Linked DNA regions of Homo sapiens: all the other regions are linked to region 1. Evidence: fine-mapped expression QTL. A gene starts in region 1. Each other region holds a variant in brackets. All regions are shown on one strand. Distances are between the middles of the regions. Region 1 holds the start of ZNF514 (zinc finger protein 514). Region 2 has its middle 120 kb from the start of TRIM43. Region 3 has its middle 3.6 kb from the start of MRPS5. Region 4 has its middle 400 kb from the start of AQP7B. Region 5 has its middle 30 kb from the start of ZNF892. Region 6 overlaps PROM2 (prominin 2). Region 7 overlaps MRPS5 (mitochondrial ribosomal protein S5).

Region 1 (4,067 bases):
CAGGCTGGAGTGCAGTGTTGCAACCTCGGCCCACTGCAGCCTCTGCCTCCCGGGTTCCAGAGATTTTCGTGCCTCAGCCTCCTAGGTAGCTGGGATTACAGGCGCACGCCACCACACGCGGCTAATTTTTGTATTTTTAGTAGAGACGGGGTTTAGTAGAGACAGGTGTGAGCCACTGCGCCCGGCCGCCAGTCTTAAAAATTTACAAACTGTATGATTCCATTTATGTGACATTCAGGAAAAGGCAAAACTATAGGGAAGGTAACAGAGCAGTGGTCACGGGTTGGGGTGGAAGAGGCATTTGACTGCAAAGGAGCAGTAAAAGGAATATTGAAGGTGATGGAGAGTGTATAGGCTGGTGAGGACTGGAGCCCCACCAACAGTGCTTTGAGATCAAATGGTGCACTAGAGCACTGAGCAGGAGAGAGAATATTCCTGGGGTAATGAATGTGCATTGTAACAAACAAGGGCCTCTGGATCAAGATCTGTCCCAAAGGACACAATGTAAGAGTGGGGAATTTCAGACACTGCAGCAGGCCTACAGAATGGGCATCAGGGAAAGGCAGTGGCCCTCAAGTTCTTCTGAAGTAGTTCCATTTCTAGTTCTGTTGAGCCATCAATGAGATGAAAATCTTTTCTCATTTGTCCATCCCCTCACCTTTTTGGTTCGGAGCACCGAAGATGGAAAAGCTCCTATATCAGCCATGGTTCCCAGACAATGTCCCCCTGCGTGGAAAAGGGCTTGCTTGCTGCGCCATCCTGGCCATCTGTGCCACTGGAAGTGCTGGCAGAAAAGTGAAACAGAGACTGCAAAAGCAGGAAAGGAGAATGGTCTCTTTGCCTTGATTTCGTGTTATTTTGTCTTTGCCTTGATTTTGTAAGTTATTTTGTCCTGAACTCCTAAATAGGGTTGATAAACCAATCTCTCTGTCCTCACAAGTGGCCCTTCTCTGGCTGAGGACTGCCTCCAGAAAACCACCGTTTTAATACTCAGACTGTGTCTTAGGCATTGGCGCTGCTATAACAGAGTGTCTTAAACTGGGGAATTTGTAAACAACACAAATTTGTTGTTCACAGTTCTGGATGCTGGGAAATGCAATATCAACGTGCCAGCCAGTTCAGGGGCTGGTGAGGGTACGTTTCTCATAGATGGCACCTTCTGTGTCCTCACATGGCAGGAGGAGCAAAGGGGGCTTAAGGCCCGTTTTTATTTTTATTTATTTATTTAATTTATTTTTTGAGACGGAGTCTTGCTCTGTCGCCCAGGCTGGAGTGCAGTGGCACGATCTTGGCTCACAACCTCTGCCTCCCGGGTTCAAGCAATTCTCCTGTCTCAGCCTCCTGAGTAGCTAGGATTACAGGCGTGCACCACCACGCCCAGCTAATTTTTAAATATATTTTTGGTAGAGACAGGGTTTCACCATGTTGGCCAGGCTGGTCTCAAACTTCTGACCTCAAGTGATCCGCCCGCCTTGGCCTCCCAAAGTGCTGGGATTACAGATGTGAGCCACCACGACCGGTCTAAGGGCTGTTTTTAAAGGGCACTAATCTCATTCATGAGGGCAGAGTCTTCCAAAGGCTCCACTTCTTAATACTATCACCTTGGGAGTTAGGTTTCAACATATGAATTTGAGGGGGACACATACATTCAGACCATAGCAGGCCGTTTTTCCATTTCTTTTGGGTCCTAAATGATATTTGTTTCTGGAGTAGGAGGGCGTTCAAAGTCCTCTTTTGTTCTTCAGCACCCTTCGCTGAATTCAGGGGCAGATGGAGAAAGGCAAGAGGCACGGGGCAGCCTGTAGAAGCAGTATCTAGCACTGAGTCCCCAGTATCCCCTAGGCACGCCAGGAGAGCCTCCTGGAAATCCTCACTCAGCAGATCCAGGGTAGGAACGCGGCTTCTGTTGAATAGCCTTACATCGAGATATGCAGGTTGGGGGCGGTGGCTCACACCTGTAATCACAGCACTTTGGGAGGCTGAGGCGGGAGGATCATCTGAGGTCAGAATTCGAGACCAGCGTGGCTAACATAGTGAAACCCCGTCTCCACTAAAAATACAACAAATTAGCTGGGCGTGGTGGCGGGAACCTGTAATCCCAGCTCCTACGGAGGCTGAGACACGAGAATTACTTGTACCCAGAAGACAGGTTGCGGTGAGCCGAGAGCGCGCCCCTGCACTCCCACCTGGGCGACAGAGTGAGGCTGTCTCCCCCCTCCCCCCAAAAAACGAGAGAGATATGAGGCTCAGCTACCAAAGTCACGCGCGAGAAGGGAAATGCTTGTAGGTCCCTGCCCTTGGGGGAGAGCGGAGTGAAAACCGGCGCGTGGCCGGCGAGCACGGCCCCTCCCAGCGGAGGTCCTACAGGCGCCCGCGAGCCCCGCCTCTCCAGCTTCGCCGCGCCAGCACCCCGCCACCGGCGCTGGCTCTGAAGGGCCCCGGCGGCGGCCGCGTCTGCGCAAGCTCGGGACGGCCTCGGGAGGCGGGGCTGGCGCGGGGCGGACGCGGGGGCTGGCGCGGGGCGGACGCGGGGGCTGGCGCGGGGCGGACGCGGGGGCTGGCGCGGGGTGGCGGGCGGGGGCTGGCGCGGGGTGGCGGGCGGGGGCTGGCGCGGGGTGGCGGGCGGGGGCTGGCGCGGGGTGGCGGGCGGGGCCTGGTCCTGTGAGCGTTCGGAGACTGCGGGCGCGCAGACCTGTACTGGGCCCGCGCCCCGGCCCCTTACAGAGCTGGGTGTGTCCCTCCGAGTGCCCCCCGCTAGGGACTGTGCAGGCCGGAGCTAGGCAGGGACAGCGGGGCGAACCGGGCTGATAGAGTCGGTCCCTGCTCCTGTGAGGCTCTCACCGAATCCCTGCTGTTTCCGGGCAGCTGAAGAGCGCTGGGCCCTCGCGTCGCGGGCGTGGCTGTGGCCGTGTCTCCTGGTAGTCTGAGCCCACTGTGCGTGTGGATCCACGTGGGAGCTGGGTTCCAGAGCCTGGTCCTGAGGAGGAGCCGAGCCGGGGGTAGGAGGCCGGACTTGGCGAGGGAAGAGCACGACCCCGGGCAGCAGTGCGCCGCGCTGGGCGCACCGGGGTTTGCCGGCCCTGCTCTGGGCCCTGCAGGTCCGCTGGCCCCGCCGCGCCTAGTGGGGATGCCCCGTGTCCCCCAGGCAGCCCCAGCCTGCGTCCCGCTCCCTGAACCCTCGGGAGGACCACAGGGCTGTGGCCGAAAGACAGAGATTTGGACCTAGTGAAAGGACGCCGCTCCTTAGCCCCAGCTATGGACTCCACAGCATCAGGTTTGGCTCTGGAGCGTGCAGAGGGCCAGGAGCCCTCTTGGGGAGCTAGTACCGAGCCCGATATCAGGAGGACCCCAGGAAGAGGCCGGGGAATCCCACTGAAGGGTGAGGCTGTACTTCATCTGCCTTCCGTGTGGCGACATCTAACCTTCCAGACCCAGAAGGCTGAAGCCGCAGTCTCCTGGGTCTGGCAGGGGTCTCTAGATGACCGTGGCGGAGGTGGAGGGGATGGCCATGGAAAATTGTCCCAATGGCCAGAGGAGAGCAGAAGAGGATCTGATCTCTTCCTGCTGCGGCAGGGAGAGGGCAAGCAAACCCAAGAGGGAGTGGCCCTTGGCCAGGGATCAGAGGACGATAGGGCCATTTGGAGCCTTGTCATCCACCTCCTTAATCACCTCACTAATAAGGTTCTTCCAGTCGTTCTAGCTCAGCGGTGTATAAGGTCAGCAGTGTACATGGTGGGTATCTCCTCTGAGCCCCTTCCCCCAATAGCGTTGGGGGCAGGGCAATCCAGGTGACCCAGGAGGTTTTAAGCCAGTCCTAAGTTTAGAACGTCCTATCTCTAACCAGGTGGGCATTTTAATCCGACTGTTCATCCTTCAGTGCACATGCTCAAGGACACATAACTGGCCAGTGGAAGAACTGGGCCCAGTCCGTGGGCTTCCCACCCCCTCTTTTTTCCTTTATACCCTTGTTAATCAGTGTGGCTCTGGGAACAGCAGAGGCATTGCCCAGAAGTTCTCTAGAATTGCAGACTCTGGGGCCCCACACATCCTCAAACAGTGTCTTAGCA
Region 2 (4,067 bases), 550 kb before region 1:
TGGCATATGCAACAACATAGATTAATCTCAAAGGCATCATGCTAAGTAAAAGAGCCAGACATAAAAAACTGTATACTGTTAGATTCTATTTATATGAAATTCTAGAAAATGAAAAACTGTAGTGACAGAAAGCAGACTAGTGGCTGTATGGGACAACAGATGGCAGGAAGTGGATTGAAACAATGGGAACATTATTTGTTCCTGAGGACACAGGGAAGTAATAGAAATGAACTAATCCTGATTGTGGTGAAAGTTGCACAGCTGTGTTCATATTCTCACACTCACCAAACAGTATATTTAAAATGGATGAAAGTTATTGCATAAAATTATACTTCAAGAAAGCTATAGAAGAAAATTGGCCAGAATGTGAAGGATTTTGGGTTCAACTTAAGGTGTTCGAACTCTATCATTGGCTATAGAAGCACTAAAATGTTTGAAGAAGGGAGAAATGGATGGTGTTGGAGAGAAGAAGCTGAGTATAAGAGTGGTTTTTTTTTTTTTTTTTTTGAGAAGTAATCTTGCCCTGTCACCCAAGCTGGAGTGTAGTGGCACGATCTCGGCTCACTGCAAGCTCTGCCTCCCGGGTTCAGGCCATTCTCCTGCCTCAGCCTCCCGAGTAGCTGGGACTACAGGCGCCCACCACCATGCCCAGCTAATTTTTTGTATTTTTAGTAGAAACGGGGTTTGTCCATGTTAGTCAGGATGGTCTTGATCTCCTGACCTCGTGATCTGCCCGCCTCGGCCTCCCAAAGTGCTGGGATTACAGGAGTGAGCCACCGCACCCAGCCAAGAGTTTTTTATGAATTATGAAATAGAGCAGGGAAGATTATGGCTTGGGTAAAGGTGGGAACAAAGGAAATAGAAATGATCAGATGGATGCAGGAGACTCAGCAATAAAAGAATCACAGACCCTGTGATTGAGGACTAAAAAGATGCGTGTTTTGGCTTGAGCCTTTAGTTTGATGATCTTGGTGAGAGATGCTTGTACAAAGCTGGAGCCAGCTTGGGGAGAAAGTGGGTGGATCCAAGGTCCGGAATTCTATCAAGGAAACAGATTTAGAAATTGGTTTAAGCAGCAGGGCGTGGTTGCTCACACCTGTAATCCCAGCACTTTGGGAGGCCGAGGCAGGCGGATCACGAGGTCAGGAGATTGAGGCCATCCTGGCTAACACGGTGAAACCCCGTCTCTACTAAAAATACAAAAAAATTAGCCGGGCGTAGTGGCGGGCGCCTGTAGTCCTAGCTACTCGGAAGGCTGAGGCAGGAGAATGGTGTGAACCCGGGAGGCGGAACTTGCAGTGAGCCCAGATCGCGCCACTGCACTCCAGCCTGGGCGACAAAGTGAAACTCCATCTCAAAAAAAAAAAAAAAAAAAAAGAAAAAAAGAAATTGGTTTAAGCTAGATGCCAAATTGATTCCACAGGATAGCCAAATATTAGGAGGGCAGGGACAAAGATACTGGCATTAGTGATGTGAGGAGGCATGAGACTCTGTGTGGGAATGGAGGCTTATGGACATGGATTCCTTTTGTAAGGGCCTGCCCTCAGGAAGCCTCTATGTCTGCCAGGTGAAATGTGTAAGAGGGAGCCAAGGAACTAAAGGGATGATTTAGGCCTGAGTGCCAGACAGCATTGCACCACCACTGATAGACCCAGAGAACCCAGAATGGGAGATGCTCAGGGACAGTGGTGGTGAAGAGCAAACACAGAAAGGGACCTTTGATGGCATCCAGTCCTACCTACCTCGCCAAAGCAGACACTTCTGCTATGTCCCCAGTACCATTTGGGTTGAGTGTTCTTCTAGAAACATGAAGTCTACTGCTTTGTGAAGAGTTGGCTCCATTCCTGGACAGCTCTAAATGCGGGTGGTGATGATGACGATGATGATAATGATGATGATGATGATGATGATGATGATGATACAAAGAGGAGCAGGAGAAGGGGACAACTAACATGTATTGAGCAGTCTCCTTGCGCTGGGCATTCTTCTAGGCTGTACATGCACTGTCTTATTTAA[T/A]CCTCAAAATAACACTATAAGGTAGGCACTATAATTATCTATCCTCGTTTTGCAGATGACAAAATGAAGGCACAGAGAAATGATATAGCTTGCTCAAGGTCATACAGAAGTGGTCGATCTGGGATTTGAACCCATGTCATCTGATGGCAGAGCCTTCACAAGCCTGGCATGTATTGCTTGCTAGTGATTCCATATCTACCTGTCTGTAATTTCTGTCTAATTCCATTTTCTGTAGGAATTCAAATCAGTAAACAAAAAATTTTTTGCATCTTTTCAAATGTGTTAAGACAGCAAAGTGTACATTTCCTCTGAATTTTCTCTTCTGTAGGTTAAATACATCCATTCTATCAAGTGTTCCATAAGAGAAGATAATTCTAGTGCCCTTACCATCTTGGTCCTCCTTATTGAATATCCCTGAGTTGGTCATAATTCTCACTGAAGGTGAAACCTAGAAGTAAACACAGTACTCCCAGTATGACTCAATCTGAATGGAGTAAAATAAGAGAATGCAGTGCATGATGGTTCCCTGTGTCGGGGCAGAGCAGATGGCAAGAAGACTAGGCCTGGAGACAAGCCCACTGTAAAAGGATGGGGTGATACTGAATCAGAAAAGAAGACGAAACAATGAGTTTAAGGAGGATAAGAACTGAGAACTTAAACAGATCTGCTGGCTTAGGGAGAGTCATTGGGAAGAAATGCAGGAGCTATGGAAAGAGTAGGCAATGAGCCAGCAGGAGGGACTACTTGTTGTCCTCTCTGTTTACAAAAGGAAAGGGAAGAAGACAGTGGCTGGTGGGAGGTGGAACACACAGAAGGATCAAGTAAGAGGTTGTTTATATGCTAGGAAAGTGGGGATAGTGAGTAAGGCAGGGAAAGGATTGTCAATAGAGAGGAAAGAATGCACGAAGAGGGAAAGACTGAAGTTGCTGCAGCCAGAGTCAGATGGAGGCCACAGGTGAGATGAAAGGTAAAGGAAGCACTTTGTGGGTAGAGAGCGATATCTGAAGGTAAAGAGAAGGAGGGCTGATAATACCCCTCACATAGTGCTTCATGGTGTGCAAAGGTTTTCCATGTTCATTATCTCATTGGATCACACACCAATCCTGAGAGGGGAAATATTACTATTTATAGTTTATCATGGAAGACAATGGAGAGTCAAAGAAGGTAAGTGACTTTTCCAGTGCTATAAAAGGAATACAATTTTCTGATTTCTTGTCCCTTTTCCTGACTCTATGACTATAGCCTATTATACTGTGTCCCAGAGAGCTCAGTAAGATATGAATCAAGACCATGTCCCAAAAGGGAACCAGGATAAGTGGATTGTTGAGAGAAATTAGGAACTAAGGCGAGCTGGGAAAATTGAGCGCATTGTTTAGAAAAGGGGTCAATGACAAATAGAGAGTTGGTCTGGCAACATCAAGAGCAACAAGGAAGATAGCCTAAGTCTGCACTAATTTAAAGGAGGCCAACCCCAACCTTCTCCTGTGTCCTGAGAAACAATACTCCATCCATTAATCCCACTGAATTTAATGAATGTCACAGTGCATCAGAGAAACAGTAGGTGATTCAGAGCAGGAGCAGGAGTTTTGTGCAGCCAGACACAGGGTACAAGGTATAAGACGTACATGAATCAGGATGATGGTCATGCCAGGCAGGATGTTACCAAAGAATGACGTGCCTGCACAGAAACCCATAGGAAAGAAAGGGGACTTGGTGGAAGGGGGTGATCTAAGAAGGTTTCTCGGGAGTGCTGAGCCCAGAATTTCACACATGTATAAGCACAGTGGTGAGAGTTGCTACAAAAATTAAGAAACCTCAATGTTAGTGAATGTGTTTGGCTGAAGACAAGTCCTTTTACTAAAAGGGCTGTAAAGCTCTCCCATAAGGGTTGGCAAAGGAAGGCTTTGTAAAATCTGTTGTGGAGAAGGGGCATGATGAGTCAACATGACATTGAAACTGTCCATGAGAAATCAGGTTAGGAGGCTAATGAAACATGGTGTGAAGGCCTAAACCAGGGTTCTGGCAATAATGACGGGAAGAGATGTTATGAA
Region 3 (4,067 bases), 35 kb after region 1:
GCCAGGCTCACTAGGACCTTTGGTGTTGACCTTTGGTGTTTCTGGAAATAAAAGAGATGGAGAACCTACTGAAGTCTTACTGGATTTGTATAGGCAGAAAAGATCTAGGCCTAGTGAACAGAAGTCTGACTTGAATCACCAAAAGAGGGAGTCATGTCTCCTCAATCAATTCCCAGACTTGAGTGAATTCACAGATCCAGAGTCCCTCGAGTGAAGGGCAGGCTGGGTCCCCTCTCAGGAAAGGCATTGGTACACTACCAAAAACGTACAGCTAATCTTCCTTTCAGCCTTCCCCAAAGGTACTTGTAGCCATTTACCAGGGTGACTATGCATCAAGGACAGAGAAATATCCAGATGTTTTAAGGATTACTCAACACTGCCTCTGAGCTGACACCAATTCCTGGAGACCCGAAATGTCACAGTGACCTGTCAGAGCAGAGGCATAAAGAGATCAGGTGATTGGTGGAGTTTTAGGTCAGGTCTGTCTCACGGTGGGCGCAATAGGTCCCAGAACCCATCCCGTGGTTATTCCTGTAGCTATGGGAGGCCAAGGCAGGAGGATTGCTTGAGGCCAGGAGTGTGAGGCTGCATTGAGTTATGATAGTGCCAGTACACTCAGCCTGGGCGATACAGCAAGATCCTGTTTCCAAGAAAAAAGAAAAGAAAAAAAAAGAAAATGGGCTCACATGTAGAATATACAAAGAATTCTCAAAACACAGCAGTGAAAGAAACCAAACAATCCAACTAGAAAATGAGCAAAAGACATTTTACTCAAGAGGGTATACAGATGGCAATTCTAGAAGCACATGAAAAGAAATTCAACATCATTAGCTATTAGGGAAATGTAAATTAAAACCATGATGATATGTCACCATACCTATGAGAGCAGCTAAAAAAAATGGGGATAACACTGAATGTTAGTGAGGATACAGAGAAACTAGATCTTTCACATATTGCTGGCAGGAATATAAAATGGAATGGCCACTTTGGAAAGTAGTTTGGCAGTTTCTTTCTTTTTTTCTTCCTTTCTTTCTTTCTTTCTTTTTTTTTTTTTTTTTTTTTTTTGAGATGGAGTTTCACTCTTGTTGCCCAGGCTGGAGTGCAATGGCTCAATCTCGGCTCACTGAAACCTCTACCTCCTGGGTTCAGGTGATTCTCCTGCCTCAGCCTCCTGAGTAGCTGGGATTACAAGTGTGCGCCACTACACCTGGCTAATTTTTGTATTTTTAGTAGAGATGGGGTTTCACCATGTTAGCCAGGCTGGTTTCTAACTCCTGACCTCAGATGATCCACCCACCTTGGCCTCCCAAAGTGCTGGGATTACAGGCGTGAGCCACCATGCCCGGCTGGCAGTTTCTTTAAAAACTAAACATATACTTACCACACAATCTAATAATCTCACAGCTTGACATTTATCCCCCCAAATTAAAACTTATAGCCACACAAAATCATGTACATGATGGATATATTTCAAAATAATTGAAAGCAGAGATTTGAAGAGATTATCTGCACACTCATGTTCACAGCAGCATTATTCACAATAGCCAAAAGGTGAAAGCAACCCAAGTGTCCATTGACAGATGAATGGATAATAAAATATGATCTATTCATACAATGGAATATTATTCATAATATTAAAAGTAAGGACATTCTGGCACACGCTATACCTGGATGAACCTTGAGAACAACATGCTAAGTGAAATAAGCCAGTCACAAAAGGACAATACTATATAACTGCACTTACATGAAGGGAGAGGGGAATGGGGAGTTATTGTTTAATGGCTGCAGTTTCAGTTTTGAAAGATAAAAGACTTCTGTGGATAGATGGTGGTGATGGTAGCACAACAACGTGAATGTACTTAATGCCACTGAATTGTACACTTAAAAATGATTAAGATGGTCCAGGTGTGGTGGCTCACGCCTATAATCCCAGCACTTTGGGAGGCCAAGGTGGGTGAATCACAAGGTCAAGAGATCGAGACCATCCTGGCTAACATGGTGAAACCTGTCTCTACTAAAAATACAAAAATTAGCTGGGC[A/G]TGGTGGTGGGCGCCTGTAGTCCCAGCTACTCAGGAGGCTGAGGCAGGAGAATCGCTTGAACCCAGGAGGCGGAGGTTGCAGTGAGCTGAGATCATGCCACTATACTCCAGCCTGGGCGACAGAGCGAGACGCGACGCGAGACTCCGTCTCAAAAAAAAAAAAAAAAAAGGATGGCAATTTTTATGTTATGTGTATTTTACCACAATTTTAAAATTTCTGGCTGGGCACAGTGGCTCATGCCTGTAATCCCAGCACTTTGGGAGTCTGAGGTGGGCGGATCGCTTGAGGTCAGGAGTTTGAGACCAGCCTGGGCAACATGGTGAAATGCTGTCTCTACAAAAATACAAAAATTAGCTGGGCATGGTGGCACAGGCCTCTACCTAGCTACTCAGGAGGGTGAGGCAGGAGAATCGCTTGAACCTGGGAGGGGGAGTTTGCAGTGAGCCGAGATCGCGCTATTGCACTCCAGCCTGGGCGACAGAGTGAGACTCTGTCTCAAAAAAATAAAAATAAAATAAAATTTCTAAATATCAAAAAATCACATACATGAATGTTGATGGCAGCTTTGTTTGAAATAGTTAATAACTGAAGACAGCCTGGGTGCAGTGGCTCACGCCTGTAATCCCAGCATTTTGGGAGGCTGAGGTGGGTGGATTGCTTAAAGGCCAGGAGTTTGAGACCAGCCTGGCCAACATGGTGGAACCCCGTCTCTACTAAAAATACAAAAAATTAGCTGAGTGTAATGGGACACGCCTGTAATCCCAGCTAATCAGGAGACTGAGGCACGAGAATCGCCTGAACCCAGGAGACGGAGGTTGCAGTGAGCTGAGACTATGCCACTGCACTCCAGCCTGGGTGACAGAGCGAGACTCTGTCTTAAGGAAAAAAAGAAAAGGAAAAGGAAAATAAAAATAAAAATAATAATATGAGACAAACTAAATGTCCTACAATGGGTGAATGGTTAAACAAATGTTAGTGCCATGGAATACTACTCAGCAATGTAAAGGAAGAAACTATTGGTACATGGAACTACTTGGATAGACGTCAAGGGTATTATGCTGAGTGAAAAAAAGCCAGTCATGAGATCATGTATTATCTGATTCCATTTATATAATGTTCTTAAAATGATAAAATTATAGAGATGAGAAACAGATTAGTGGTTGCCAAAGGTTAAAGATGGTGGAGGAGAGGATAAAAGAGGGGGTGGGTTTGACTCGAAGGGAGATGCACAGGTGATCTTGGAGATAGAACAGTTCTGTATCTCGATTGTGGTGCTGGATACAGAAATCTACATGTGACACAACTGCATAGAACTACACACACATACACAAATGAGTGTATGTAAAACTCATAAAATCTATGGATTGTACCGATGTCAGCTTCCTGGTTTTGATGTTGTACTATAGTTATGTAAGATGTACCATTTGGGGAAACTGAGTAAAGGATACATGGGACCTCTCTGTACTATTTTTGCAACTTCCTATCTGTATCTTTGAATCTGTAATTATTTCAAATTTAAAAGTTAGAAACAAACGACTAAGTAATCAAAACTTGCTTTGGGCCTTAACAGAGTCTGGAGGCTTGACCATTGACCAGCAACTTACCATGCAGTTTAAGCTGCTCATCATGAACTGGCTGTTGTATGATCACCAAGCCATAAAGTTGTGTGTGCACAGCAACACTCCATCATCGAATGGAAGTGGTACATATGAAACTGAACTGGAGCAGGACCTGAACATGCAAGCTACATGATCTTCTCTCTCTCAACCCCTACCCACAGCTTCATGAGGAATTACCTGTGACCAGTTGCCTGAAGAAGAAAACTCTTGGGCTTGGTTTACTCATGGTTCTGCATGATCTGTTGGTATCACCTGAAAGTGGACAGCTGCAGTACTGCAATCCCACTCTGGGATGCTTCTGAAGGACGGCGGTGAAGGGAAATCCTCCCAGTGGGAAGAAGATAAGAGTAATGTGCCTGGTTGTTCATTTTGCCTGGTTAGAAGTATAGATCTATACTTTTTCATGAG
Region 4 (4,067 bases), 970 kb after region 1:
GTGAAACTACTTTATCCTATGCATAGGGGTTATACTGGAAATAAAATGTACAACATTGGAATCCCTAAGGAGAAAAGTCCTAAAAGTTTCAATATCAAGAATCCCGCACCTGCTGCTACTTATCTAGCCTTTTGCTTGATTTCTGGCTGACGAAGTTGCACAACTCTTGAAAACTAAAAACCTTGAAAATTTGTCACTTGAAAACTACTTGAACCAAACTATGAAATCTGACCTGCTATATAAGATGGAATTGTTACAATTATTTTAAACTTCAATTTAGTGTTCTGCTCTATCAAAAGAAAGTTTCAACTCTGTTAGTTGAGTGCACACATCCTAAACAAGTTTCTGAGAATGCTTCTGTCTTCTTTTTATGGGAAGATATTTCCTTTTTCACCATAGACCTCAATGCGCTCCAAATGTGCACTTCCAGATACTACAAAAAGAGTGTTTCAAACGAGCTCTATGAAAGGGAATGTTCAAATTTGGGACTTGAATGCAATCCTCACAGAGATTTTTCTGAGAATGCTTCTGTCTAGGTTTTATATGGACATATTCCCGTTTCCAACGAAATCCTCTAAGCTATCCAAATATCCACTTGCAGATTCTACAAAAAGAGTGCTTCAAAACTGCTCTATCAAAAGAAAGATTCAACTCTGTTAGTTGAGTACGCACATTCCAAACAAGTTTTGAAAACTGCTTCCGTCTAGATTTTAGGCGAAGATATTCCCTTTTTCACCATAGACCTCAAAGAGATCTAAATGTCCATTTCCAGATACTACAAAAAGAGTGTTTCAAAGCTGCTCTATGAAAGGGATTGTACAACTCTCTGACTTCCATGCAAACATCACAAAGGTGATTCTGCGAATGCTTCTGTCTAGATTTTCTATGAAGATATTCCCTTTTCCAAGGAAATCCTCAAAGCTATCCAAATATCCACCTGCAGATTCTACAAAAAGAGTGTTTCAAAACTGCTCTATCAAAAGAAAGGTTCAACTCTGTTAGTTGAGTAAACACATCACAACGTAGTTTCCGAGAATGCTTCTGTGTAGTTTTTGTGGCAAGATATTTCGTTTTTCACCTTACACCTCAAAGCGATCAAAATGTCCACTTCCAGATACTACAAAAAAGTGCTTCAAACCTGCTCTGTGAAAGAGACTGTTCAACTCTGTGACTCGAATGCTAACATCCCAAAGAGGTTTCTGAGAATGCTTGTGTCTCGATTTCATATGAAGATTTTCCCATTTCCAACGAAATCCTCAAAGCTGCCCAAATATCCACATGCAAATTCTACAAAAAGAGTGTTTCAAAACCGCTCTATCAAAAGAAAGGTTCAACTCTGTTATTTGAGCAAACACATCACAAACTAGTTTATGAGAATGCCTCTGTCTAGTATTTATGTGAAGATATACCCTTTTTCACCACAGGCCTCGAAGCGATCCAAATGTCCACTTCCAGATTCCACAAAAAGAGTGTTTCAAACCTGCTCTATGAAAAGGAACGTTCAACTCAGTGACTTGAATGCTACCACCCCAAAGATGTTTCTCAGAATGCTTCTGTCTAGGTTTTATATGAAGATATTCCCGTTTCCAACGAAATCCTCAAAGCTATCCATATATCTCCTTGCAGACTTTGCAAAAAGAGTGTTTCAAACCTGCTCTATGAAAGGGAATGTTCAACTCTGTGACTCGAATGCTAACATCCGAAAGAGGTTTCTGAGAATGCTTGTGTCTCGATTTCATATGAAGATTTTCCCGTTTCCAACGAAATCCTCAAAGCGGTCCAAATATCCACATGCAAATTGTACAAAAAGAGTGTTTCAAAACTGCTGTATCAAAAGAAAGGTTCAACTCTGTTAGTTGAGCAAACACATCACAAACTAGTTTATGAGAATACTTGTGTCTAGTTTTTATGCAAAGATATTCCCTTTTTCACCACAGGC[C/T]TCAAAGCGATCCAAATGTCCACTTCCAGATTCCACAAAAAGAGTGTTTCAAACCTTCTCCATGAAACGGAATGTTCAACTCTGTGACTTGAATGATAACACGCCAAAGATATTTCTGAGAATGCTTCTGCATAGATTTTATATGAAGATATTCCCATTTCCAACGAAATCCTCAAAGCTTTCCAAATATCCACATGCAGATTCTACAAAAAGAGTGTTTCAAAACAGCTCTATGAAAAGAAAGGTTCAGCTCTGTTAGTTAAGCACACACATCACAAACTAGTTTATGAGAACGCTTCTGTCTAGTTTTTATTCGAAGATATTCCCTTTTTCACCTTAGGCCTCAATGCGATCCAAATGTCCACTTCCAGATTCCACAAAAAGAGTGTTTCAAAACTGCTCCATGAAAGGGAATGTTCAACTCTGTGACTTGAATGCAAACATCCCAAGGATGTTTCTGAGAATGCTTCTGTCTAGATTTTATATGAAGGTATTCCCCTTTCCAACAAAGTCCTCAAAGCTATCCAAATATCCCCTTGCAGAGTCTACAAAAAGACTGTTTCAAGAGTGCTCTCTCAAAAGAAAGGTTCAACCCTGTTAGTTGACTACACACATCACAAACTGGTTTCTGAGAGTGCTACTGCCTAGTTTATATGGGAAGATATTTCCTTTTTCACAATAGGTCACAAAGCACTCCAAACGTCCAGTTCCATATACTACAAAATCTCGTGTTCACACCTGCTCTATGAAAGGGAATGTTCAACTCTGGGACTTGAATGCAATCCTCACAGAGATTTTTCTGAGAATGCTTCTGTCTAGGTTTTCTATGGACATATTCCCGTTTCCAACGAAATCCTCTAAGCTATCCAAATATCCACTTGCAGATTCTACAAAAAGAGTGTTTCAAAACTACTCTATGAGAAGAAAGATTCAACTGTGTTAGTTGAGTACACACATTCCAAACAAGTTTTGAAGACTGTTTCCGTCTAGTTTTTAGGCGAAGATATTTCCTTTTTCACCATAGACCTCAAAGAGATCTAAATGTCCATTTCCAGATACTACAAAAAGAGTGTTTCAAAGCTGCTCTATGAAAGGGAATGTTCAACTCTCTGACTTCCATGCAAACATCAAAAAGGTGATTCTGCGAATGCTTCTGTCTAGATTTTATATGAAGATATTCCCTTTTCCTAGGAAATCCTCAAAGGTATCCAAATATCCACCTGCAGATTCTACAAAAAGAGTGTTTCAAAACTGTTCTATCAAAAGAAAGGTTCAACTCTGTTAGCTGAGTAAACACATCACAACGTAGTTTCTGAGAATGCTTCTGTGTAGTTTTTGTGGCAAGATATTTCCTTTTTCACCTTACGCCTCAAAGCGATCAAAATGTCCACTTCCAGATACTACAAAAAGAGTGCTTCAAATCTGCTCTATGAAAGGGAATGTTCAACTCTGTGACTCGAATGCTAACATCCCAAAGAGGTTTCTGAGAATGCTTGTGTCTCTATTTCATATGAAGATTTTCCCGTTTCCAACGAAATCCTCAAAGCTGTCCAAATATCCACATGCAAATTCTACAAAAAGAGTGTTTCAATACTGCTGTATCAAAAGAAAGGTTCAACTCTGTTAGTTGAGCAAACACATCACAAACTAGTTTATGAGAATACTTGTGTCTAGTTTTTATGCAAAGATATTCCCTTTTTCACCACAGGCCTCAAAACGATCCAAATGTCCACTTCCAGATTCCACAAAAAGAGTGTTTCAAACCTGCTCCATGAAACGGAATGTTCAACTCTGTGACTTGAATGCTAACACGCCAAAGATATTTCTGAGAATGCTTCTGCATAGATTTTATATGAAGATATTCCCATTTCCAATGAAATCCTCAAAGCTTTCCAAATATCCACATGCAGATTCGACAAAAAGAGTGTTTCAAAACTACTCTATGAAAAGAAAGGTTCAGCACTGTTAGCTGAGCACACACATCACAAACTAGTTTATGAGAATGCTTCTCTCAAGTATTTATTCGAGGATATTCCCTTTCTCACCATTGGCCTGAATGCGATCCAAATGTCCACTTCCAGATTCCACAAAAAGAGTTTTTCAAACCTTCTCCATGAAATGGAATGTT
Region 5 (4,067 bases), 78 kb before region 1:
ATCTACTAGACTACTTAAGCTTATTTGATATGTTAAATATTGCAATAAAGCAAGTGACACAAATTTTTTGTTTCCTAGTGCATATAAGTTATGTTTAAACTATCCCGTAGGTCAGACACAGTGGCTCATACCCGTAATCCCAGTACTTTGGGAGGCCGAGGTGGGTGGATCACCTGAGGTCAGGAGTTCAAGACAAGCCTGGCCAACATAGTGAAACCCTGTTTCTACTAAAAATACAAAAAAAGTAGCTGGGTGTGGTGGCAGATGCCTGTAATCCCAGCTACTAGGGAGGCTGAGGCAGGAGAATTGCTTGAACCCAGGAGGCTGAGGTTGCAGTGAGCCAAGATTGCACTATCGCACTCCAGCCTGGGTGACAGAGCTAGACGTGCTCCAGCCTGGGCGACAGAGTGAGACTCCATCTAAAAAAAAAAACAAAAAACTATCTTTTTGCTGGTGGAGGGTCTTGCCTCAATGATGATGGCTGCTGACTAATCAGGTCGGTGGTTTCTGAAGGTTGGGGTGGCTGTGACAATTTCTTAAAATAAGACAACAGTGAAGTTTGCCACATCAATTGGCTCTTTCTTTCACAAAATATCTGTGTAGCATGCTGTCTGATAGTGTTTTACTCACAGTAGAACTTCATTCAAAATTGGAGTCCCTCCTCTTAAACCCTGCTGCAGCTTTGTCAACTAAGTTTATGTAACATTCTAAATCCTTTGTTGTCATTTCAACAGTGTTCACAGCATCTTCACCAGGAGTAGTAGATTCCATCTCAAGAAGCTACTTCCTTTGCTCATCCACAAGAAGCAACTGTCTGTTCAGGCTTTACCATGAGATTGGCAACAATTCCAATTCAGTCACATCTTCAGGCTCCACTTTTTTTTTTTTTTTTTTCCTTTGAGACGGAGTTTTGCTCTTGTCACCCAGGCTGGAGTGCAGTGGTGTGATCTCGGCTCACTGCAACCTCCACCTCCTGGGTTCAAGCGATTCTCCTGCCTCAGCCTCCTGAGTAGCTGGGATTACAGGCACGCGCCACCACGCCCTGCTAATTTTTGTATTTTTAGTAGAGACGGGGTTTTACCATGTTGGCCAGGCTGGTCTCGAACTCCTGAGCTCAGGTGATCCACCCACCTCTGCCTCCCAAAGTGCTGGGATTACAGGCGTGAGCCACCGCGCCTGGCCCAGGCTCCACTTCTAATTCTAGTTCTCTTTCTCTCTCTGCCATATCATCAATTACTTCCTTCACTGAAGGCTTGAACCCTGCAAAGTCATCCATGAGAGCTGAAATCAGCTTCTTCCAAACTCCCAGTAATGTGGATATTTGATCTCCTCTCATGAATCACGAATGTTCTTGATGGCATCTAGAATGGTGACTCCTTTCCAGAGGCTTTCAATTTACTTTGTTCAGATCCATCAGAGGAATTACTGTGGCAGCTATAGCCTTACGAAATGTGTTTCTTAAATAATAGTAAGGCTTGAAAGTTGAAATCACTCCTTGATCCATGGGCTTCAGAGTGGATGTTGTATTTGCAGGCATGAAAATATTAATCTCCTTGTGCATCTCTATCAGAGCTCTGAGGTGTTTAGGTGCACTGTCAATGAGCAGTAACATTTTTCTAAGCAGTAGGTCTCAGCCCTGGGCTTAAAATACTCAGTAAACCATGCTATAAACAGATGTGCTGTCATTCAGGCTTTGTTGTTCCATTTATAGAGCACAGACAGAGTAGATTTCACACAATGCTTAAGGGCCCTAGGATTTTCAGAATGACAAATGAGCACTGGCTTCAATTTAAAGTCACCAGCTGCATTAGCCCTAACAAGAGAGTCAGGCTGTCCCATGAAGTTTTGAAGCCACACATTGACTTCTCTCTAGCTATGAAAGTCCTAGATGGCATCTTCTTCCAATAAAAAGCTGTTTTGTCTACATTGCAAATCTGTTGTTGCGTGTAGCCCCCTTCATCAATGATCTTAAATATCCTGGATAACTTGCTGCATTTTCTCTGTCAGCACTGGCTGCTTTCATCTTGCACTTAATTTATGTGATGGAGCTGGCTTCTTTCCTTAAACCTCAGGAACCAACCTCTGGTAGCTTCAAACTTTTCTTCTACAGCTTCCTTACCACTCTAAGCCTTCATAGAATTCAAGGTTTGCTCTGGATTAGGCTTCGGCTTAAAGGAATATTGCAGCTGGCTTGATCTTCTATCCAGACCACTCAAACTTTCTCCATGTCAGCAATAAGGCTGTGTTGCTTTGTTATCATTTCAATGTTCACTAGAGTAGCACATTTAATTTTCTTCAAAAACTTTTCCTTTGCATTCACAACTTCGCTAACTGTTTGGTGCAACAGGCCTAGCTTTCAGCCTGTCT[C/T]GGCTTTGGACATGCCTTCCTCACTAAGCTTGATCATTTCTAGCTTTTGATTTAAAATGAGAAACATGTGACTCTTCCTTTCTCTTGAACACTTAGAGGCCATTGTAGGGTTATTGATTGGCCTAATTTCAATACTGTTGTGTCTCAGGGAAATAGGGAGGCCCTAGGAAGGTGGGGAGGGGAGTGTCTGGTCAGAGGAACAGTCAGAACACACATTTATCAATTAAGTTCACCATCTTAATGGCGGTTCATGGTGCTCCCAAACAGCTACAATAATAGCATTAAAGATCACTGATTGGAGTTCAAGACCAGCCTGGCCAACATGGTGAAACTCTGTCTCTACTAAACGTACAAAAATTAGCCAGGCATGGTGGTGGGCACCTGTAGTCCCAGCTACTCGGGAGACTGAGGCAGGAGAATCACTTGAACCCAGGAGGTGGAGGTTGCAGTGAGCCGTGATCGCGCCACTGCACTCCAGCCTGGGTGACTGAGGGAGACTCTAGTCTCAAAATAAAAAAAAAAAAAAAAAAGCTCACTGATCATAGATGACCATAACAGATCCAACAATGGTGACAAAGTTTAAAATATTGTGAGAATTACCAAGATGTGACACAGAGACACGAAGGGAGCACATGCTGTTGGATAAATTGTGCCCATGCAGGGTGGCCACAAACCTTCCATTTGTAAGAAACACAATATCTGCAAAGTGTAATAAAGAATCAAAGTGCAATAAAAATGACATATGCCTGTATGTGAAATTCCTAGAAATTTTTCAATGCCCTTAGTGTCCATATAATCAGTCATAATTCTATGTATCTTAAGGTATTGTATTCCACAGAAATAATAAAATTTTCTTGCCAACTCTATTATAGTAAACTCTCACCATATCCTCAATCATGACTATTCTAGAAGGTTGTTATTTTTTGTTTGTTTGTTTTGTCTATCACAGACAGTTGTTATACTCTGATGCTTTCCTGAAAGCTCTTACAACCAGCTACAGACAAAAGTGTTTCATCTTCAAAGAGATTCATGGAAAGACTCTGACAAGTACTATGCAATGATACAGGCTCCTGACAATGTTCAGATCATACCACTGAATGTGGTAAAAATTTCCACAGCTCTAATGAAAAAAATGGATGGATTCAGAAAACTGCTAATCCAAGATAGAGCAGAACGAGAATTAATTACATGGAACTAAATGAACCAAAGAAGATGATTGTAGTTTTTATAACTGTTTAAAACATTGGTGATTCTTTAATGTCTTGTTTACCATATTTAAGGAAACTCTTTTCTCTTTTCTCTTAAGCTATCTATACCTTACAGCAGTCTGGTAAATTATACCTTTGTAAATAACGTTGAGACATTTCTCCTTTACTTCCTACTTGATTCCTCCAGAATTCTGGAAACTTTGAGTATTCTTATTTTTATGGCAATATAGTTGTTTGCATAGGTTCAACAAGAATCTAAAACAAGACACAATTTGAAAACATTAACTATATTGCCAAGGCTTTGACTGGAATGTCCTATTTTCAGATATGACCAGACAGATTTAAGGAACTAGAGGTGACTTCGTGGAATCAGTAAAGCCCCCTGACTAAACCAGCCTGACTCCTTGCCCACAGAGTCCCCTGCCTTCCAGGTGAATAAAGAAGGCTACTTCCTAGTGGGCCCAAGCAGTTCAGGAGATCTCTGATGAAAAT
Region 6 (4,067 bases), 120 kb before region 1:
GGATCTGCAGGTGGACAGAAGAGGCCAGGAGGGATGAACCCAGCTCCCCTGGGGCCCACCACCACCTGATCCCAGCCTCCAAATCCCCAGTCTTATCAAATATAACCTACACCAGCTAAGTGTATTGTGACACATCAGTCACAGTGAGTTTTCCCTGGAACTGTGAAATATTTCAGACATTTTCCCAGTGAGATAGAAACAACAAGAACAAATAAGGCACCCTCTGGTGTAACTAAGGAAGAGGCAACTTCCCAATGCGTCCTCGGCAGCAGTGGGTTCAGGACCATGAACAGCAACACATGCTGTTGGGTTGGGGGAGAGGTTGTCCATTCCTGTGTGACCGGGGTGGTGGCAGGAGGACAGGCCCAGGGGCACATGATCTGGGGACACCTCCACAGGAAGAGGCCCCAGGAAATGTGGAAGAGCCAGAGCTGGGACAAGGCAAGATGCACACCCAGCTCCTCTGTGGGCCCCTTCGTTCCATCACCACCTGCTGAGGAAGCCCTGCTGAGGTGCCCACCGCTGACCTGAACGAGGAAGTCGGGGTAGTGGATGCGCTGAAGCCCACTGCTCTGCAGGGCCTCCAGGTCCCGGCGGGCGGCTGAGCTCAGCAGGTCCAGGCTCTGTGTGTCTACTTTCAGGCTCTGCAACTCCTGCCGTAGCTTGTTGGTATACTGGGAGAGCAGGCGCAGGGTGGGAGTCATGCCCAGTTGCTGAGCCAGGACCCCAGAGATGCTCCCCTAAGCACAGGGGTCACCAGGCGATATGGTTTGGATATTTGTCCCCTCCAAATTTCATGTTGCAATGTGATCCCCGGTGTTGGGGGTGAAGGTGGGCCTGGTGGGAGGTACTAGATCACGGGGGCGGATCCCTCACGTATGGCTTAGTGCCATTGCCATGTGATGAGTGAGTTTTGCTCAGTTATTTCACGTGTTTGAAAGAGTGTGGCACCTCTGCGTTGGCTCTCTCGTTCCCTCTCTCCCTATGTGATGTGCTGGCTCCCCTTGGCCTTCGGCCATGAGTGGAAGCTTCCTGAGGCCTCCCCAGAAACGGCTGCCGGTGCCATGCTTCCTGTACAGCCTGCACTTAAACCTCTTTTCTTTATAAATTATGCAGCCTCAGGTATTGCTTTTTTTTTTTTGGTTGGGGAAGCGGACAGGGTCTTGCTCTGTTGCCCAGGCTGGAGGGCAATAGCACAATCACAGCTCACTGAAGCCTAGATCCCCCGGGCTCCAGTGATTCTACCACCTCAGCCTCTCGAGTAGCTGGGACTACAGGTGCAAGAAACCACACCTGGCTTTTAAAAAAAATTGTAGAGGAGGGTCTCCCCATGTTGCCCAGGCTGTTCTTGAACTCCTAGGCTCAAGTAATCCTTCCACCTCAGCTTCCCAAAGTACTGGGATTACAGGCATGAGCCACCATGCCCCAGCCTCAGGTATTCCTTTATAGCAACACAAGAACAGACTCACACAGCAGGCCCTCAGGGCCCCCTGCCCTGGACACCCCAAGCCCC[A/T]GACAGGCTCCCAGTAGGCCCCTGCCCCAAATGCCAAGACCTGGCCTTCCTCCAGTGCCCATCTGGCTTCTGGGCAGAGACACAGACCTTCCCTGGCCACCTGAAATAAAATAGCTCTCTCAGCCGCTCTTTATCCCATCAGCTGTGTCGAGGCCTTCAAAGCACTTGTTGCTCTGAAATGATCTTATTTGTGGGTTAATTGTTCAATGCTGTCAGCTCCACAAGAGTGGGACTTTGCCTGCCTATTCAGCCCCAAACCCCCAGCATCTAACTCGGAGGGTCACACATGGTGGGCAGGAGACAAGTTTGTTAGCTGTGTGAATGAATGAATGAATGAATGAATGAATGAATGAATGAAACTGTATTTTCAGGAAAGAGCCTTAGCATTTTCCTACTATCACTGGAAGAGATTTAGAGGTCATAAAAGTCAGCCCAGTGTTTAACAGATAAGAAACTGAGGTCAGAGTGGAGCGTCCACTTGCCGAGGTTACACAGGTGGTTAGAGACTGCAGCCCAGCTTGGCTCTCCTCCCCGCATCCCTCCAGGCTGCCTTCTCCTGGAGGAGAAAAGGCCTGGCCCTCTCGGGTGGGGGCCTTCGGGCCGTGTCTCAGGCATCAGTGGCAGCAGCTTCAGGAGAAGTGGAAAGGTGGCTGGTGCCCTCCCCGTGCTCTGGAAAGCCCTGTGTGTTACTCATGTCTGCCTACCCATCAGTGTCTCCTTTGAGGACGAGGATTCTTACAGCCACATTTGGTACATTGTCAGGTGGCCTCAGAGGACTGCCCAGTGCATCTGAATCCAAAGCCCTATCTATCCAGACTCTCCTGTGAGCTGGACCCTCCCCTGCCAAGGACCAGAGCCCAGGACTCCTCCCCTCGAGAGCCATGGCTTCCTGCCAGTAGAGGATGGGGGCTCCTCTGCCCAGGCCCCTGGTTCATCCCTCCCTGGCCAGGCTTCCTCCACAGGGCAGTGTCTCAGCCTAGCACTGAGATATCGCCTGCTCGGGGAGCTCCTGTCTGGTTAAAGATGCGGAAGGAGGAGTGAGCTGCATAACTGTCCCAGGTTGTGCAGTTCAAGGTACAGAGTTGGGGCTGGGCCATCCGGCTGTGCTGTCCGTGGGCCGAGGCTGGTTGGTGGATCCAGGGGTTGGAAGGGTTTCCCAGAACGATGCAAAATCAGGAGTTAGCATGCTCTGTGTTTGGGGAGGGCGAGGGGAACCAGGGCCAGGGGATGTGGGTTTCCCCAGCATATGCTTAGGAGCGTGGAAGTCGAGGAGTGAATGTCTTCCAGCTGCTGTGCACCATGAGGAGAGCCCCATTCTCAAAGTCCATCCCTCTTGTGAAACAGCCCTTCCTTGCCTTCATTCTAGAACTGTCTCTTTCCAGCATTGGCAAGTGTCTCCAGTTCTACACACCAAGTTCCAGTAACTCCAGAGGTTACAGGAAGAGGCTTGTCAGGCTGGGGATGGAATCCTGCCACCACCACCTCCCACCTGCGTGAGCTTGGCAGGCCCTCCACCAACGTTAGCCAGACTCACCACCATCCTTGTCACTGCCACGTCCTTCCCCAGCCTCCCCCTCCCAAGTGGAGCATCCCAGCCAATGCCTGTCCTCAGTCAGGACACATGGGCCCCCTCATCCTCCTGCTCACTGTCACCAGCCTTTCCTGCTGCCACCTTGGCTGTGCTTGGGGCTGGACATAGCCTTCAGGTGCACACGGACCCACCTACACACCCGGAACCTTCCCCAGAGCTGATAACTGGGCCTCTGCCCTTGGGCACCTTAATCGCTCACACAGACTTCTCAGGTCTCCTAGGTTCAAAGAGACGGTGCCTCCACAGAGGCAAAAAGACCAGAGGAGGGGGATCTGAGGAGGGCTCCTCACAGTTTCCAAAACGTTCTCTCACCTGGTTGATATCCAGGTGCTCCTCCAGGTCGTAGGAGTCGTTGAGCTGCAGGACTGTCCAGAGCGCTGCCCCTTCCTTGCACTGCCTGAGGAGGAGTGAGGGGTGCAGACGATGAGCCTTGGGGGTGGCGGGGGGGCTGATGTCCCCTGAGGGACACCGGCCCTCCTCCTTCCTTCCCCGGTCCCAGCTCTGCCCAGGCTGTCCACTCACTGATAGGCTTGGTGGATGCTGATGTTCTTCCTCAGGCCAAGAAGTTGCGACAGGTTCATGGACGGGGGCAGGTTCCCTGGGGTGTCTGCAAACTGGGGATGGGGCAGTGAGAAATGGGCACAGAGCGGGGTGGGGGCAAGGCCACCCTGGTCCCCTAGGGCCTGGCCCTGTGCTGCTGTGGCACAGCACAGACCAGGGGTAGGAAACATCCCCTCACCCCAGCTCACACCTGGCCTCTAACTCTGGTGACCCCTGGGCCCCAAATCCTTACAGGGGCTCTTCCCATGAATCCCTAGGAGGGTTGCCCAGCCCGATCTTCTGCAGAGAACCCAGTCCAGCATCGCAGCTCACCGGGCACCAGGGTCCCAGCTCCCAGACAGTGTTAGGAGATGAGAGGGAATGGGTCAGGGTGCCATCTCTCAGGGTCCCTGCCCTGGGGCC
Region 7 (4,067 bases), 73 kb after region 1:
CTAATTTTTGTATTTTTAATAGAGATGGGGTTTCACCATGTTGGTCAGGCTGGTCTTGAACTCCTGACCTCGTGATCCACCCGCCTTGGCCTCCCAAAGTGCTGGGATTACAGGCGTGAGCCACCGCGCCCAGCCTAGACTTGTTCTTTTATGTGATATCTTTGTTTTCTTTTAGTCTTTTAAACCTTCTGATATAGTTACCATATGTCATCTCTCCTAAAATGCCATCAGCTATAAAAGGTTGCATTATTTAATATGTCACTCAAAAAGGAAAAGATGCCACCACTTTAGGTGATATGCCTTTGATTGAAAGATACACCAATATAAATTATTTTGTTTATGAAATGGCTCATCTGTTTTCTAATTTCACACATACTGCAGGGCATTAGATATATAATTAGAATAGTGCAAGGCAGCCATAAGGCCTGGGATCACGGGATTGACATAGCAGGTATGTCATTGTACCATGAATAACGTCTACTGAACTAATCTGCCTGCTTCCAGATCTCTGTGGCTTCCCTCTGCAGTGAATCCCCATGGCCCTGTTACCCAGCTCATGACCAGTCTTGCTTCTTAGTACACCCCCAGTTATTTTGAACCAAATCTCAGACATTTTATTTCAACCCTAAATATTTTAGTATGTATCTTCGAAAAGATGAGGATTTTAAAAAATACCCTGTAATACTATTATCATACCTAAAAAGTTAACAGTAACTTGTATCATCAAATATCCAATCAATGTTCATACAAATGAGCAAATTCCATTTGTTAGATTAAAAAAAATTTTTTTTTTTTTTACACAATGTGTTTGAATCAGGTTGCAGAACAGGTTAATGTATGTTTTTGCTATGCCTTTTAAATAGGTTCCCCTCCTCTTCCCCCACCCCCGCCCCGCTTATGATTTTTTGTTGAGGAAACCAGGTTGTTTGTTTTGTAGTGCTTCCTGGCCTGTTGCTGACTAAAATACCTGTAGGGTCCTTAGTGTCTTATCTCCCCTATATTTACTGTAAATTGGTAGTTAGATCTAGGGGGTTGGTGAGATTCAAGTTCAGTGTTTGGCACAGCATGGTGCATAATCAGGAGGGTTTAGAAGGCAAGAGACCAGAGGCCAAGGCCCTTCCTCTATCCAAGTTTGGGGTGGGCAGATGCAGCAGATGAGGCTGAAATGACTCCACCCATGACAGGTTATTAGAGTTTAGCCACAAAACACATTAACCCAAATCCACTGAAATGGCCTTTGAATACCCCCAGGCTGTACTGTTGTGGCCTGTGGAAGTTCCTGCTCTTTATGTTGCAAATGTACTTCAGACCTAACCTGTTCTGAATTTGGTCTTGCTTAGGAAACCCATCAACAGCTGGCTGATAAGAAGGGCCTCCATGTTGTGGAAATCCGGGAGGAATGTGGCCCTCTGCCCATTGTGGTTGCGTCCCCCCGGGGGCCCTTGAGGAAGGATCCAGAGCCAGAAGATGAGGTTCCAGACGTCAAACTGGACTGGGAAGATGTGAAGACTGCACAGGGAATGAAGCGCTCTGTGTGGTCTAATTTGAAGAGAGCCGCCACGTAACCTCTCTGGCCTTGTGCAGCCAGTTCCTGTGCTGCCCTGCACCTAGGAGAGACTCAGCCCCTCACAGCTTGGGATGTTACCTTGCCTTTTGTTTGTTTTGAGGGAAGTTTAATCTTTAAACTCTTTGGAAATAAATAATTATAGCTTTCATTTGTTGAGCACATGTTATATGCCAATGTGATAGAACCTTTACATACATATCTCAGTTCAAGACTACTTTAAATATTCATCCAAAGTAACAAAAGTAAATGAATTAGGGAGACGGGGTTAATAATTTGACCCAATCAGTAATAATGTACACAATGATAATTGCTGTAGTAATTATAGCTAATATATATGAACTCATTCATCCAAAGTGAATGTGATTAACTTCATTTTACAGAGCAGTTAAGTAACTTGACTACCGTGAGGAACTTCCAAACCGTTTTCCACAGTGGAAATGGAAGTTGTAGGCTACTATTGGGAATGTTAAATGGTATATTAATTGTATACCATTGCAATTTTGACTTGTATTTCCCTGATGGCTGATGATGTTGAACATCTTTTCATGTGCTGATTGGCCATTTGTATATGTTTTTTGGAGAAATGTCTATTCAGAGCCTTTGCCCATTTAAAAAGTTATTTTTTATTATTATTGAGTTCCTTATAGTTTCTAGATATAAGCCCCCCTATCATACATGCTTTACAGAAGTTTTTACCCATTCTGTGGAATATATATATTTTTATTTCTTTGCATACTCTTTCTGCCCCACCCACATCCTCTTTCTGGGACACTGATGACCAAAATGTTGAATCTTTTACTATTGTCCCGTGAGTCCCTGAGGC[G/A]CTGTTTATTTTTTTTCCAGTCTGTTTTCTCTGTGTTGCTCAGTTTAGGTAATTTCTATTGTTTTATCTTCAGAATAACTGGTTATTTACTCTTTCCTTTCCATTCTGCTCTTGAACCATCCATGCAGTACTTTAACTTTGACTGTCATTGTATATTTCAGTTAAAATTTCCATTTGGTTTATTTTTTATGTCTTCTCTTTATTTGCTGAGGCTATTTGCTGAGACTTTTTTTTTCTTTAAATGGCTTCAAGAGTGTTTATAATTGCTCACTGAAGCATTTTTATGGTGGCTGCTTTAAAATCTTTGTCATCAGGTAGGTGTGGTGGCTCACGCCTATAACCCCAGCACTTTGTGAAGGTGAGGCAGGAGGATTGCTTCAGCCCAGGAGTTTGAGATCAGCCTAGGCAACAAAGTGAGACCTCATCTCTACAAAAAGTAAAAGTAAATTTAAAAGTTAGACACACATGGTGGTGTATGCCTGTAGTCCCAGCTACATAGGAGGCTGAAGTGGGAGGATCATTTGATTGCAGGAGGTTGAGGCTGCAGTGAGCCTTGTTCATGCCACTCCAGCCTGGGTGGCAGAGTGAGACCTTGTCTCCAAAAAAAAAAAAAAAATTGTCATAAAGTTTCAACATCTGTGTCATCTTAGTGTTGACATCCCTTGAGGTTTTTTCTCATTCAAGTTTACAATGTCCTAGTTCTTGTTATGATGAGTGACTTTGGCTGTATCCTGGTCATCTTCACTGTTATGAAGCTCTGGGAGTTATTTAAATCTCTCAGCATGCTTCCTCTGACGGTGCTGGTATGGGATGGGGCACTGCCTCGTTACTGCCTGGTGAGGATGGAGATCCAGGTTTCCTCCTGTCGCTGTCCTCGGGACCTCTGCTGAGGCCTTTCTGCTGGAAGTAGGAGGAGCACCCTAATGGCACCGTGGGATAGGGAGCAGGCCATGTTAGGCTGGATGGTGAAAGTTTTCAGCCTGTGACGTTGTCTGGTGTGGGTGGGTCCCCTTTTTTTGTGTGTGGTATTTTGCTAGAGTAAGGTAGTTATTTCCTAAAACTTATCTGTCCTGTTAGTTTTCCTTCTTAAGTACCTAACAAATATAAAGACAATGAACTTTAAGCAATAAAAGACAATGATCCTTTGGAGAGGGGAAACAAAATTATCTGTACTTACTATCTGCGGAGAGTCCGTGGTTCTAGGAAGGGTTACCCCATCAGGACCTGGCGGTCTCCTGGAGTTGAGGTGCAGTTGGGCAGTCGAAATGACTAGAGTTCACAGGGGAGAATGCCTTGGAGGAGAGAGTTGCACAGCAGGAGAACTAAGATCTGCAGAGAGTTTCCATCAGATATTTAGTTACACACTAATAGTGCATGCCGGTGAGGAAACTCACCCAAAAGAATTAGAGGGAACAGTGTTTGGAGTGGAAAATAGTGCCTGTTATCAACAGTCACAGTGGAAAACCTTGTAATCTAGGTGGCATTGGAAGAGAACTAAGATGCCCTAGTAGTAGAAAAATTAACTCTACATAAAAACTACCCCTGGTCCCAACTCAGAAAGCTTAAAAACAAGACCAAACTGGAACACAACTGTTTCAAAGTAACTTAATTGTGTTCCAGAACAAAGCTCAAGAATATAGGAATACAAAAAATATACCCAATAAAGTAAAATATACA

What was found. PIP is the estimated chance that this variant, and not a neighbour inherited with it, causes the effect.
Region 2: its variant is fine-mapped to the expression of ZNF514 in whole blood (TOPMed, PIP above 0.99).
Region 3: its variant is fine-mapped to the expression of ZNF514 in whole blood (TOPMed, PIP above 0.99).
Region 4: its variant is fine-mapped to the expression of ZNF514 in whole blood (TOPMed, PIP above 0.99).
Region 5: its variant is fine-mapped to the expression of ZNF514 in whole blood (TOPMed, PIP above 0.99).
Region 6: its variant is fine-mapped to the expression of ZNF514 in whole blood (TOPMed, PIP above 0.99). The same link has a PIP of 0.9 or more in breast, sun-exposed skin, thyroid and tibial artery.
Region 7: its variant is fine-mapped to the expression of ZNF514 in lung (TOPMed, PIP above 0.99).

The regions. Positions count from the first base shown.
Region 1 is chr2:95,158,172-95,162,238 of GRCh38, reverse strand. ZNF514 (zinc finger protein 514) reads left to right here and starts at 2,391. Exons shown (of 5, transcript NM_032788.3): 1 at 2,391-2,999. RefSeq lists a silencer at 2,315-2,564.
Region 2 is chr2:95,705,836-95,709,902 of GRCh38, reverse strand. No RefSeq gene overlaps it. Among named protein-coding and RNA genes, the nearest start is that of TRIM43, 120 kb to the right of the region's middle. The variant T/A (reference allele first, on the strand shown) is at 2,017.
Region 3 is chr2:95,123,370-95,127,436 of GRCh38, reverse strand. It overlaps a transcript of ZNF514 not described here. Among named protein-coding and RNA genes, the nearest start is that of MRPS5, 3.6 kb to the right of the region's middle. The variant A/G (reference allele first, on the strand shown) is at 2,040.
Region 4 is chr2:94,185,520-94,189,586 of GRCh38, reverse strand. No RefSeq gene overlaps it. Among named protein-coding and RNA genes, the nearest start is that of AQP7B, 400 kb to the left of the region's middle. The variant C/T (reference allele first, on the strand shown) is at 1,940.
Region 5 is chr2:95,235,972-95,240,038 of GRCh38, reverse strand. It overlaps a transcript of ZNF892 not described here. Among named protein-coding and RNA genes, the nearest start is that of ZNF892, 30 kb to the right of the region's middle. RefSeq lists an enhancer at 1-51. The variant C/T (reference allele first, on the strand shown) is at 2,368.
Region 6 is chr2:95,281,576-95,285,642 of GRCh38, reverse strand. It overlaps PROM2 (prominin 2), which reads right to left. Exons shown (of 24, transcript NM_001165978.3): 13 at 3,627-3,718; 14 at 3,417-3,501; 15 at 528-674; 16 at 1-4. Among named protein-coding and RNA genes, the nearest start is that of PROM2, 9.2 kb to the right of the region's middle. The variant A/T (reference allele first, on the strand shown) is at 1,514.
Region 7 is chr2:95,084,855-95,088,921 of GRCh38, reverse strand. It overlaps MRPS5 (mitochondrial ribosomal protein S5), which reads left to right. Exons shown (of 12, transcript NM_031902.5): 12 at 1,341-3,553. The coding sequence ends at 1,565. Among named protein-coding and RNA genes, the nearest start is that of MRPS5, 35 kb to the left of the region's middle. RefSeq lists an enhancer at 904-1,469. The variant G/A (reference allele first, on the strand shown) is at 2,391.